Linked DNA regions of Homo sapiens: region 2 is linked to region 1. The links come from fine-mapping of genetic effects on gene expression. A gene starts in region 1. The other region holds a variant in brackets. All regions are shown on one strand. Distances are between the middles of the regions.

Evidence for each region.
Region 2: its variant is fine-mapped to the expression of TF in fetal neocortex (Walker 2019, PIP 0.90).

The regions. Positions count from the first base shown.
Region 1 is chr3:133,743,071-133,748,447 of GRCh38, forward strand. TF (transferrin) reads left to right here and starts at 3,323. Exons shown (of 17, transcript NM_001063.4): 1 at 3,323-3,413; 2 at 5,342-5,377. The coding sequence starts at 3,371.
Region 2 is chr3:133,597,453-133,602,829 of GRCh38, forward strand. TOPBP1 (DNA topoisomerase II binding protein 1) reads right to left here. Exons shown (of 28, transcript NM_007027.4): 28 at 2,786-3,941. The coding sequence ends at 3,798. LOC124909437 (a long non-coding RNA gene) reads right to left here and starts at 1,625. Exons shown (of 2, transcript XR_007096110.1): 1 at 1,104-1,625; 2 at 723-1,010. The variant C/CT (reference allele first, on the strand shown) is at 2,785.

The DNA.
Region 1 (5,377 bases):
TATCAAGAAGGCAGCTGTGGTCTGGAGAAGGGCAAGATTTAGGAAGTTTGAGTTCAGGTCTCAGAGCTCCATGAATAAGGACCCATCATTTGACTGTAATGACCACATGTGATAAATGGAGGTACTGATCTTATCTTGCATGGCTGCCCCAATGATCTTGCCCCAGGACAGTGCCTGACACATACAAGGGGATAAAAACATGATATTTTCTTCCAGCTGAGCATAATCAAGCCAGTCCATGTCTAAGGATCTGCAGTTGGTACTCAGACCTCTCCCAGACTGACCAGCCCCTGTGCTGGCAAAGCCCTGGGGGCTGTGTGCTTTTGGAGAAATGGCAAGGCTGGGAGTCTCATGTCTGTCCCTCTCTCGGTGTGACCCCAGATGAGCTCCTTGGCCCCTGCATGTCCTGGTTTCCTGGGAGAGGCAGTGTCCCTGGTGGATGTGTACACTCTGGAACCAGACTGCCTTCTTTTGTATTCTGACTTTGCAGCTGACCTTGAACAAGATATCATCCTCTCTTGTCCTCAGTTTCCTTGTCTCATCTGTAAGATACAGATGCTAAAGCACCAAAGTCAGAGGGGTATGGTAAGTGCTCAGTGAAGCTCCCAGTAAATCTCAGCCATCATTAAGCTATTAAAAGGGACAGTGATTCTCCAACTCCAGAACATCTCTGGTATAGAATTAAAGAATATAAATGAGAGCACAGGTACAAGTGTCATGGACATGGAGCGCTGTAATGTTAACCTCTTACCTTCACATGCTCCTATAGACATATACAGGCATAGGCACCCCATACAGCTAGGGCCATGCACACATGTACACCCCAAAGCTGGCCTCACCCCTGCCTACCCCATCCAAGGAATGGCAAGCACGAAGCTCTGCTGTTGTCCTCTTGAGCAAAAGCCAAGGCCCTGGCCTCTCCATCTAGGTGTGTGTAGATGACGTGGGAGCACCAGTTCTCTATGTCTTGTCTGAGCTTCCTTCATATCCCATGAGGCTGTATATTTCCTTCCCAGCACCTGTCTTGGGCTTGGACTCAAAGGACCCTTCTGAGGACAGGGCATAGAGCTGGCTGCTCTGGAGAGGACTCAGCCTGGCCAGTAGGTAGTTGCTCCCTGCTGAGGGGCTCTGGCTAGGCTATGGGCCTGTGGCTGGAGGACTGGCCTCAGCGGGGCTTAGTCTACGAATGTAGATGGGCTCCAGAAAAGGAGAATCACTGACCATCTTCTTTCCATGCCCTGCGTTGAGCTTCCCTGAGTTTGTGGCATGGGCTCAACCTTTCGTAACTGCACTTCCTGCTCTCTGGCAGACCCTGCAAGCTTACTACAGGGCCTGTCCATGCATCAGCTGTATGTGTGCATGCTGCTCTGCTGGGTGCCTTCCAGTTAGCCTTGCCCCTGACTTTTCCTGCTCATCTCACATCCTTACCTCAAGGTCTCCAAATGAATCCAGACCACTGCCTAGAGCCTGCTGCAGGGGCAGTAGGAATATGGCCCTCATGCTAACAGTCTTCTTTCCCTATGGCTCAAGCACAAGGGGCCCGTGGACGGGCAAGGGGGGAGTAAGACAGGGCAGCAGTGGTCACTCTCCCTCGCTGGTGAGGCTGATGTGTTGGGAAAGCCAGACTTGACTTCTGTCCTCACTGTAAACAGAAAGCTTCTGTAGTGGACTCTAAAGTGGGAGGTATGTAACCCCTTTGCATATGAGATAATCTTTTGGAGTGTGGGAGAACATAATCTAACTTCCAGTTATATTTATTGTTATTGCAAAAGATTAACAAATTATCATTCATTCATATTGAATGTGTGAATTGGCCCTATCTCCCACCTGAGTCTGCAGTCATGACAGATGGAGCCTTTCAGGTGTCCTAAGGGAAGATGGGGTTCACCTCACAATGCTAAAGGTGAAAAGGGGAGTGCCGACCCTGCCCTTTGTTTTGGCATTTTTATTTCCATACTTTGTGGTTTGTATGTGCCCAGTTAAACGGATGTACAGATTAGATAATCTGGCTTTAACTCCAACCTTCACGAGATGCACACATGCCTTAAAAAGATTCTTACAAAGAAACTAGAATTAGGAGACAATTCTGACAACACAAAAACAAGTGAACAAAAATCAAATGACTGACCTGACGTGTCCACTAGGCTTGATATGAGCTTGGTCAACTAAAACATGAGACAGAATGAATGACCATCTGGTCAGGTTGGATAAGAAGTAACTTTTGGCAAAATCTCTGAAGTCTGGATTTACACTTCGTGGAAGGAATCTTGACCTTTCCCCAAGTATATTATGCCTTGAGATAATAATCCTGTATAAGGCCGCATAAGCAAAACGACATTTGAAAATGAGTTTCATCTTTAGCTCATCCTTTTACAAATTTCTATTCCTTGTGCATGATTGAAGTGTACACATTTTTTAGTTAAAATATAAGCATATAGAAGGCACAAGTTCAATATTTTTCATGATAAGGATGTGTAATTAAACTGGTTAGGAGACTCATCGACTAGAGGGGGACATGGTGGCCCCAGGCTGTAAGAACAGGCCACACCGTCCACTGGGCCGCTTGCTTTGTGCTAAGATGACACTTTGTTCTGAGCCTCACAGTGTCTTGACCATGTTCCTGGAACCTTCTTGTTGGAGGGAGTTCATCTTCCCCTATGACTCTGTCCCTAGTCTAAGGTGTCCCACAGGAAGCTTGAGGGCGGGAAGTTTTCCAGCCCAGGAGCCTGAGCTCAGCGGGGCAGGAAGAGGGAGCAGCTCCTCCGTGGGGGACCTTTGAGAGCCCAGGAGCAGGATTTCGAGGGACACCTGGTGGGGAGCAAAAGGTGCTGAGTCTGTCTTTGACCTTGAGCCCAGCTTGTTTCTCCTGCATCCTCCCCCAAAAGGGGCTTTGCCTGTCATTCTGCAGTTCTAGTGTGGGGTCTGGGCGCAGTTCTTTTCCCTCTCCAGCCTCGGAGTCTTCCTCTGTGGACTGCGCAGATAGGACTGGTGGCACGGACCAGCTCTGCAGCCCTGGAGTCAGGAGCAGAGCCCCCCGGCTCCCAGCCCGCCGTAGCCGCTCCTGGCACCGAGCGAGCCGCGATGACAATGGCTGCATTGTGCTTCATGTCCCTTCCCATCAACATTTCTGTGCTGGACTCCTTCCACTCGCGGGTCGTCTCCAGAGCTCAGAAAATGAGGTGATCAGTGGGACGAGTAAGGAAGGGGGGTTGGGAGAGGGGCGATTGGGCAACCCGGCTGCACAAACACGGGAGGTCAAAGATTGCGCCCAGCCCGCCCAGGCCGGGAATGGAATAAAGGGACGCGGGGCGCCGGAGGCTGCACAGAAGCGAGTCCGACTGTGCTCGCTGCTCAGCGCCGCACCCGGAAGATGAGGCTCGCCGTGGGAGCCCTGCTGGTCTGCGCCGTCCTGGGTGAGTGCGGGCACGGGGTAGCACCGCAGAGTCGCTGGCCCGCGCGTTCCCTGCAACCCGGGCGGCCACCGCGCAGCCTGCATGCACTCCGCGCTCAGGCTGGAAGCCTGGGTGTCTGGGTGCCTTTCCATTGCCTCTCTACGCCCCACCCCTGGCCTTTGCTTGGGCTTCTAGACACCTTTCACTGCACTCACTGTCTTCTCCCCCTCCTCCTCTTTGTCCAGTAAATCTTGCAGCAGTGAAATACAATAAATCAGAGCACGTCTAACCAGGTTATCAAAACCCTTTGCTGCTGCCTCTTGTCAAGTCCGAACTCCTTAGCATGGCATTCAAGGCCTCCCGGGTCTGACCATTCCCCTTTCAGAGGCTGATGTCCCCTGGGTGCCCTGGGAGCTGTAGATGTCCTGCCAAGGAAGCGGTGCCATCGAGCGGTCAGAGCATGGGGTTTGAAGCCAGACTTCTTGGATCCAAGTCCTGGCCGGCTCCTCACCAGGGAGGGGGTCATCACAGCACTTGCCTGGGAGGGTCAAATGAGGGTCAGCGAGGTGGCAGATGCTGAGTACCAGTGGCAGATGTTGCACACATCCTGCTATGGGGCAGTGGCTGACGCCACACTCCCCGACCTCCTGAGGTGGGGCCCCCTTCATACTCTAACTTCTGCCTGCCATTCATGGGGCATTTGTCACACTGTTGGGGCTTCCACGTTTAGTTTTCTCTCCCCATAAGCTAGCAATTCCTTGAGAGAGGACCCCACGTTACTTGCCTTTATCCCCGCACAGAGCACTTCACAGGCTGTGCAAGGTAATGCTCCACTGAGGACACATTCTCGCCTATGGGAACTCTGGAGGCAGGGCTTTGTGGAGGGGCTGCCACAGGCTTATGTTGCCTCCTAGGATTTCCCATGGGCCAAGAGGGAAAATGGGGGTCGCTGGGGTGGCCATCCCTGGTGGCCCCTCCTCATGCATCCTGGAGAGCTGTGGGCCTCCTCTCCACAGGCTTTGTGGATCTTCTTCAGAGCCAGTGAGTCAGCCTTGCTGTGGTGGCCCACAAGGAGTGGAGATGACAGAGGGCCTTGGGGACAGGGCAAAAGCTCATGTGATAGGGATGCTGTCTCTGCAACCACATGGATTTTAATAGTTACCCATGGCTGGCTTCAGCTTTTTTTGTGAATGGCAGCCAAAAAGTGTGGTGAAAATGGAGGGATAGTTCAGTGGAGACAGAGGGGAGACTGTTGAATTTGTGGAGTTTTTAGTTCTTCCTAAACAGAGAGCAACAGACAAGAGTTACAGACAAATTAATTCTTTTCGTTAATTTACCCTCAACTACTGGCCAAGAAGGGGTGTAACTCAGAATGTTTTCTTCTTTTGTGCCCTGAGTAGCAGACCCAGAGTCTGGAGACCCAGATTCTAGGCCTGGCTTGGCCAACGACAAGCAGGGTGACCTTGGGTTAAAAAAAAAAAAAGGCATCATTCTCTGAGTCTCACTCCCTCTTCTCAAAAAGATGGCAATTCCTCCCCCGCTGGTTTTCCATAGTTGAGGTAGCAAGCCAATGTGTTGGGGTAGCTGAAAACGCCCTGTGCATACTGAGGCTTATGTTCCATGGGGGGCCAGGGGCCAGGACAGTGATGGGAGGAGACAAGGCGGATACAGAGGAGCAGATTGTCATCTCCAGCTGGGAGGTGATGGCCATGCCTGCACCCCTCTGGCCAGCAGAGGGTGGTCAGTAGGAAACTGGGAGGCCATTAGGGCAACCTTCTATTGGCTCAGACTCAGAATGCAGTAGAACTTGTGCCCTGTAGTGTTCATGGACAGGAGTGAGAGGAGGACAGGACTGAGGGGATGTGGCTGTCAAGGCCTTTCTAGGGGCGATGCTGTCTCTCCCTCAGCATAGGGAGTGGGCCCTTCCACCTCTGGCCTCTCTCCCCCAGGGCTGTGTCTGGCTGTCCCTGATAAAACTGTGAGAT
Region 2 (5,377 bases), 150 kb before region 1:
GGCAGGGCGCGGTGGCTCACACCTGTAATCCCAGCACTTTGAGAGGCTGAGGCGGGCAGATCACTTGAGGTCAGAAGTTTGAGACCAGCCTGGCCAACATGGCGAAACCCCATCTCTACAAAAATAGAAAAGTTAGCTGGGCGTGGTGGCACACGTCTGTAATCCCAGCTACTCAGGAGGCTGAGGCAGGAGCATGGCTTGAACCCAGGAGGCAGAGGTTGCAGTGAGCTGAGATCATGCCACTGTACTCCAGCCTGGGCAACAAGAGCGAGGCTCCGTCTCAAAAGAAAAAAAAAATTGAGCTGGGTGCCTTGCTTGTTGACAGATCTAGATTTTAAAATCTTTTTAGGGATAGAAAATAAGGAACAGTCAACTATGGCCCACTGCTTATTTTTGCATGGCCTCAAGCTAGTAATGATTTTTATGTCTTGAAAGGTCAGAAGGAAACCAAGCCCTGATACAAAGCAGCCTGTATTAAAGCACTTCTAGGTGAGAGGTGTAAATGTGAAATAATAGGTTTGCATTAGAGCAGTGGTTTGTGACTTTTGGGTGGAAAGTCACAGATCCAAACTCTAGAATTATGAACTCTACCCTAAAAATGCTCATATACAAAACAGCCTGTTCCATTCCCAGGCATCTCAGGCCCCAAAGTAAGAACCTTATTACTGTTAATATTGTTACTGGTCTGCTCAGGCTGCCACAAAGGAACATCACAAGCTGAGTGGCTTAAACAGAAATTTATTTTCTCACAGTTCTGGAGATTGGAAATCCAAAATCCAGGAGACGGCCAGGGTTGGTATCTGGTGAGACATTTCTTCCTGGTGTGTAAACAGATAGCTGCCCTCCCCGTGTCCTCACAGGGCTTTTCCTCCGTGCCGGCAAACTCCTGGTGTGCCTCCCTCTTCTTACCAGGACACTAGTCCTGGTGGGTTAGGGACTCATTCTTATGACCTCATTTAATCCCCTTATAAAGGCTCTGTCTACAGTCACATAGCAGGTTAGGCTTTAACCTGTGAATTTTAGGGGGACAAGCTCAGTCCTTAACAGTGTAAATACTAAATCTGAGTATAATTGAGTACTGTATTTACAGTAAGGATTCCTACCTCTTCAAGTGCTAAGGGACCATGTGTTCCAGGTGGTTTGTTGCTGAATCCTAGGCACAGGTTGAGGATTCCTACCTGTTGAATTAACGAATGTTGGTGAGATCAGACTAATGCACAGGAAAATTCGTGGAGGGATATAAGGTGATAATTTAAATATCACAGATTAAAATATCGTAGCCATTCAGAAAAGAAACTCATACTAATCTAATCAAGGCAAGTTCTGCCCCCTCCCCTTTTTAAACAAGAAGACTACCTATGCTTGGAATTATTTGTATATAAGAGGATATTGTTGCTGGCATTAGGACATTTACAGATTAACAGCCAAAGCCAGAGTTCAAGTGGCTTATACAGAGTATGGGCAGATGCTGGAAAGTTAGGAGGAGAAACTGAGACCTGGAGCCTTAAATGGTAAACTGTGTGTCTAAGTTTGAACTGGAAAACCATTCATAATTTTGGCAGAAAAGAAAGTGGTATATTAGGTAATTTAAAAAGTAACTATTTCAAAGAATTTTTTTTTTTTTTTTTTTTGAGATGGAGTCTCACTCTGTCACCCAGGCTAGAGTGCAGTGGTGCGATCTCGGCTCACTGCAACCTCCACCTCCTGGTTCAAGTGATTCTCCTGCCTCAGCCTCCCATGTAGCTGGGATTACAGGCACGTGCCGGCACACCTGGCTAATTTTGGTATTTTTAGTAGAGATGGAGTTTCGTCATGTTGGCCAGGCTGGTCTCGAACTCCTGACCTAAAGTAATCTGCCCACCTTGGCCTCCCAAAGTGCTGGGATTACAAGTGTGAGCCACTGTGCCTGGCCTATTTCAAAGGATTCTGAGTAATAAAATTCAGGGAAACGTACTACAATCTACAAAATGATTCAGCTAAAATAAAATAGCTCTGATAAAGACAGGCCCATGTGGTTTTTGTTTGGTGGGAGGGGGACAGTTTACATCATAATGCTACCTATTTCTCTGTGTAGAATTTGTATTGTCCTAAGCTGTGAACTAGCTCAAAGCTGAAAACCCTGTAGGACCAATCCTCTAGCAGCAGGGATACCCTCAACTCCATTTTGAAGAAAATCTGATGAAAATTTAAGGGATTTTGTGTCCAAGTTGAGCACTCTCTCCTTCACTGTTTGAATCTGCCTTTCAAAAAGTCATTTGGAATTGAACGGTTTACATCAAAATTACATTCCTAACGGATTCTAGTTTGTCCTTAAAATGAAATTAGGTGTATTTATAGAGAATTCTGGTAACGCATGTAGTATTAGGTGTTTAGGTTTAGCATAATAAAGGCTAATGCAATACAGAGTTCCAATAACAGTATGTTTTAATCTAATAGGGCAATATTCTAAATAACAAATATCAGAAATGTTAAGCAATTCATTTATTTTTTTTGAGACAGGGTCTCATTCTGTCACCCAGGCTGGAGTTGCAGTGGCATGATTTCAGCTCACTGCAACCTCTGCCTCCTGAGTTCAAGTAATTCTCATGCCTCAGCCTCCCAAGTAGCTGGGACTACAAGCATCAAACAGCATGCCCGGCTAATTTTTTGCTATTTTTTGCAGAGATGGGGTTTCGCCATGTTGTCCAGGCTGGTCTTGAACTTCTGGGTTCAAGCAGTCCACCCACCTTGGCCTCCCAAAGTGGTGGGATTACAAGCATGAGCCACCGTGCCTGGCCTGCAATT[C/CT]TTTTTTTTTTTTTTTTTGAGATGGAGTTTCGCTCTTGTTGCCCAGGCTGGAGTGCAATGGCGCGATCTCAGCTCACCGCAACCTCCGCCTCCCGGGTTCAAGCGATTCTCCTGCCTCAGCCTCCTGAGTAGCTGGGATTACAGGCATGTGCCACCACACTGGGCTAATTTTTTGTATTTTTAGTACAGATGAGGTTTCTCCATGTTGGTCAGGCTGGTCTCAAACTCCCGACCTCAGACGATCCGCCTGCCTCAGCCTCCCAAAGTGCTGGGATTACAGGCACGAGCCACCGCACCCAGGCCCCTGCAATTCATTTTTTACGTTACATAAATGTTTTGTTGCTTCAACAGAAGAACAGATGCCAGGGTGCTCTTTTAAAAAATTTATCTATGTAAACACATCTTAATACTAATTTGAGTTACTACTTTTATTCTTTATTGTCACATTTTCCAAGTTTTGCGCATTCAAACTTGGCAAACATCATGGAGATTTGTACAAACATACATATACATATATACACACATATTTATAGCCCCAGCTTCCTCATTAAACCTTGTGCTCAGGCTCCTGTTAAAAGAGGTAAAATGGTGAGAAGATAAAAATCAGGGAAAACATGAATAAATGCTGACTGACAAATCTTGTTGTTATGAATTTGTAAGGCAGACATTTTAAAGCAAAATCCATTACCTTGCTAAAATTTCCACTAAGCTACAGCTTCAGATATTTACAAGAAAAATAAATATCTTTTAACAGACTTCAATGTGGTTTAACAGCAAGCTAGCTGAGGAGTTGTATTTTGTTGTTATTTCAGGTAACTTTTTATTAAGAAACAGTTAATATTTCAGTGATTACAATTTCAGGTGTTCAAAACTCAAGAAGGGTCATCATTATACTCTGAAGCAGAATTCTTCAGGTACTCATCTTTAAATTACTACCCAAATCTATCACAGTCACATTCAGGCTTTCAATTTTTAAAAACATTTAATGTTTGGTAACTAAAGGGTAGATGCGATTAGTGTACTCTAGGTCGTTTGATTTTATTTTTTTCTGTAGGAGCTTTCCTCTTTTGTGATAATCCAGTCCCAAGTTCCTTATTATTCTGAATAAATGAAATAGCTTCTGGTAGACAGTAATTTTCTACATGAGGAGGTGATTCCTATAAAAGGAAAAATAAGTGATTTTTTAAAATGATTTCAAACATTTACGTGATCTGGTAATAGATTTTTTCTTTAAATCTCAGACCTCTCAGGGATGAATCTGACAAACTTAAAGGAAAACGCATATTCATTCCTAGGTTCCAGCAAATTAAACAAAATGGACCCTGTGGGACAAAGTCTCACCTTTTATCAAAGAAATACGTGTATGGTTCAGGTAGAGTGGGACTAGCTCAGATCTTACAAACATTTCATATCGGTGTTTTTAATCCCCATTTTTGAGATAAAATAAAAAAGGTTAAATGAAAACAACCAATGTCACATAACTAGCAGGTAGCAAAGCCAAATTTCATAACTGATCTGACTCCAAAACCCTTGCATTTTCCCCCCACAACCATTTCCCAACATAGAAATGGATCTTTTCCTCCTTATTATAAGTGTAATAAAACTTAATTTTCTAGCAATATGGCAGACTGGGCAACCTGAAAATGAATCACCACAAAATACCAAGTAAGTGCCTTTTGATTCAATTCTTCCATGGATAACAGCTACAAATTCTGACCAAAATATATTAAAAGCAACCATAGAGCCTGGAGAATAAACGAACCAAGCAAATGGGGGGCTGGGGACGCAAACACAGTGTATGAAGTAAACTGCCTGTTAAACAACACAGTACTCTTTGGAGGAGCAAAGGAACAATAGAACCTAGAGTTTCTTTTTTAGGGGGAGATAAGGGTCTTGCTGTGTTGCCCAGGCTGGTGGCTGGTCTCAAAAATGACACATTGAATACAAGGGAACAATTCAAATGACCATCACTGATTTCTCAACAGAAACAATGGAGGCCAGCAGACAGTGAAGTCTTTAATAGAAGAAAAAAACCTGTCAATCTATAATTCTGTATCCTGCAAAACTGTCCTTCAACAATGAAGGTAGAATAGACATTTCATACAACAGAAAGCTAGAATTGATCCCCAATCAACCTGCACTCCAAACTAAAGTTAGTTCTTCAGGCTGAAGGAAAATGTTATCAGATGGAAACTCAGATCTTCAGGGAAAACTGACACTCAAACTGGTATACATGAGGGTAATTATAAAATACCATTTTTTATTTTAGTTTCCTCAAAATGCACAGAATTGTTAAAAGCAAAACCTATTTAAAGTAAAATCTTATTTGGGGCTATAAGATGTAGATGTAAAATATATGACAACTACTGCATAAAGCAGAGGTCAGCACACTTTCTGTAAAGGCTCAGACAGAAACATTTTAGATTTTGTGGGATAGATGATTTGTGCTGAAACTACTTAACTCTGCCATTATAGTGCAAAAGCAGCCATAGAAAATACATAAATGAATGAGTATGGCTGTTTTCCAACAAACCTTTATTTATAAAATAGGCAGTGGGCCAGGTTTGGCCAGGTGGCTATAGTTTACTGACCC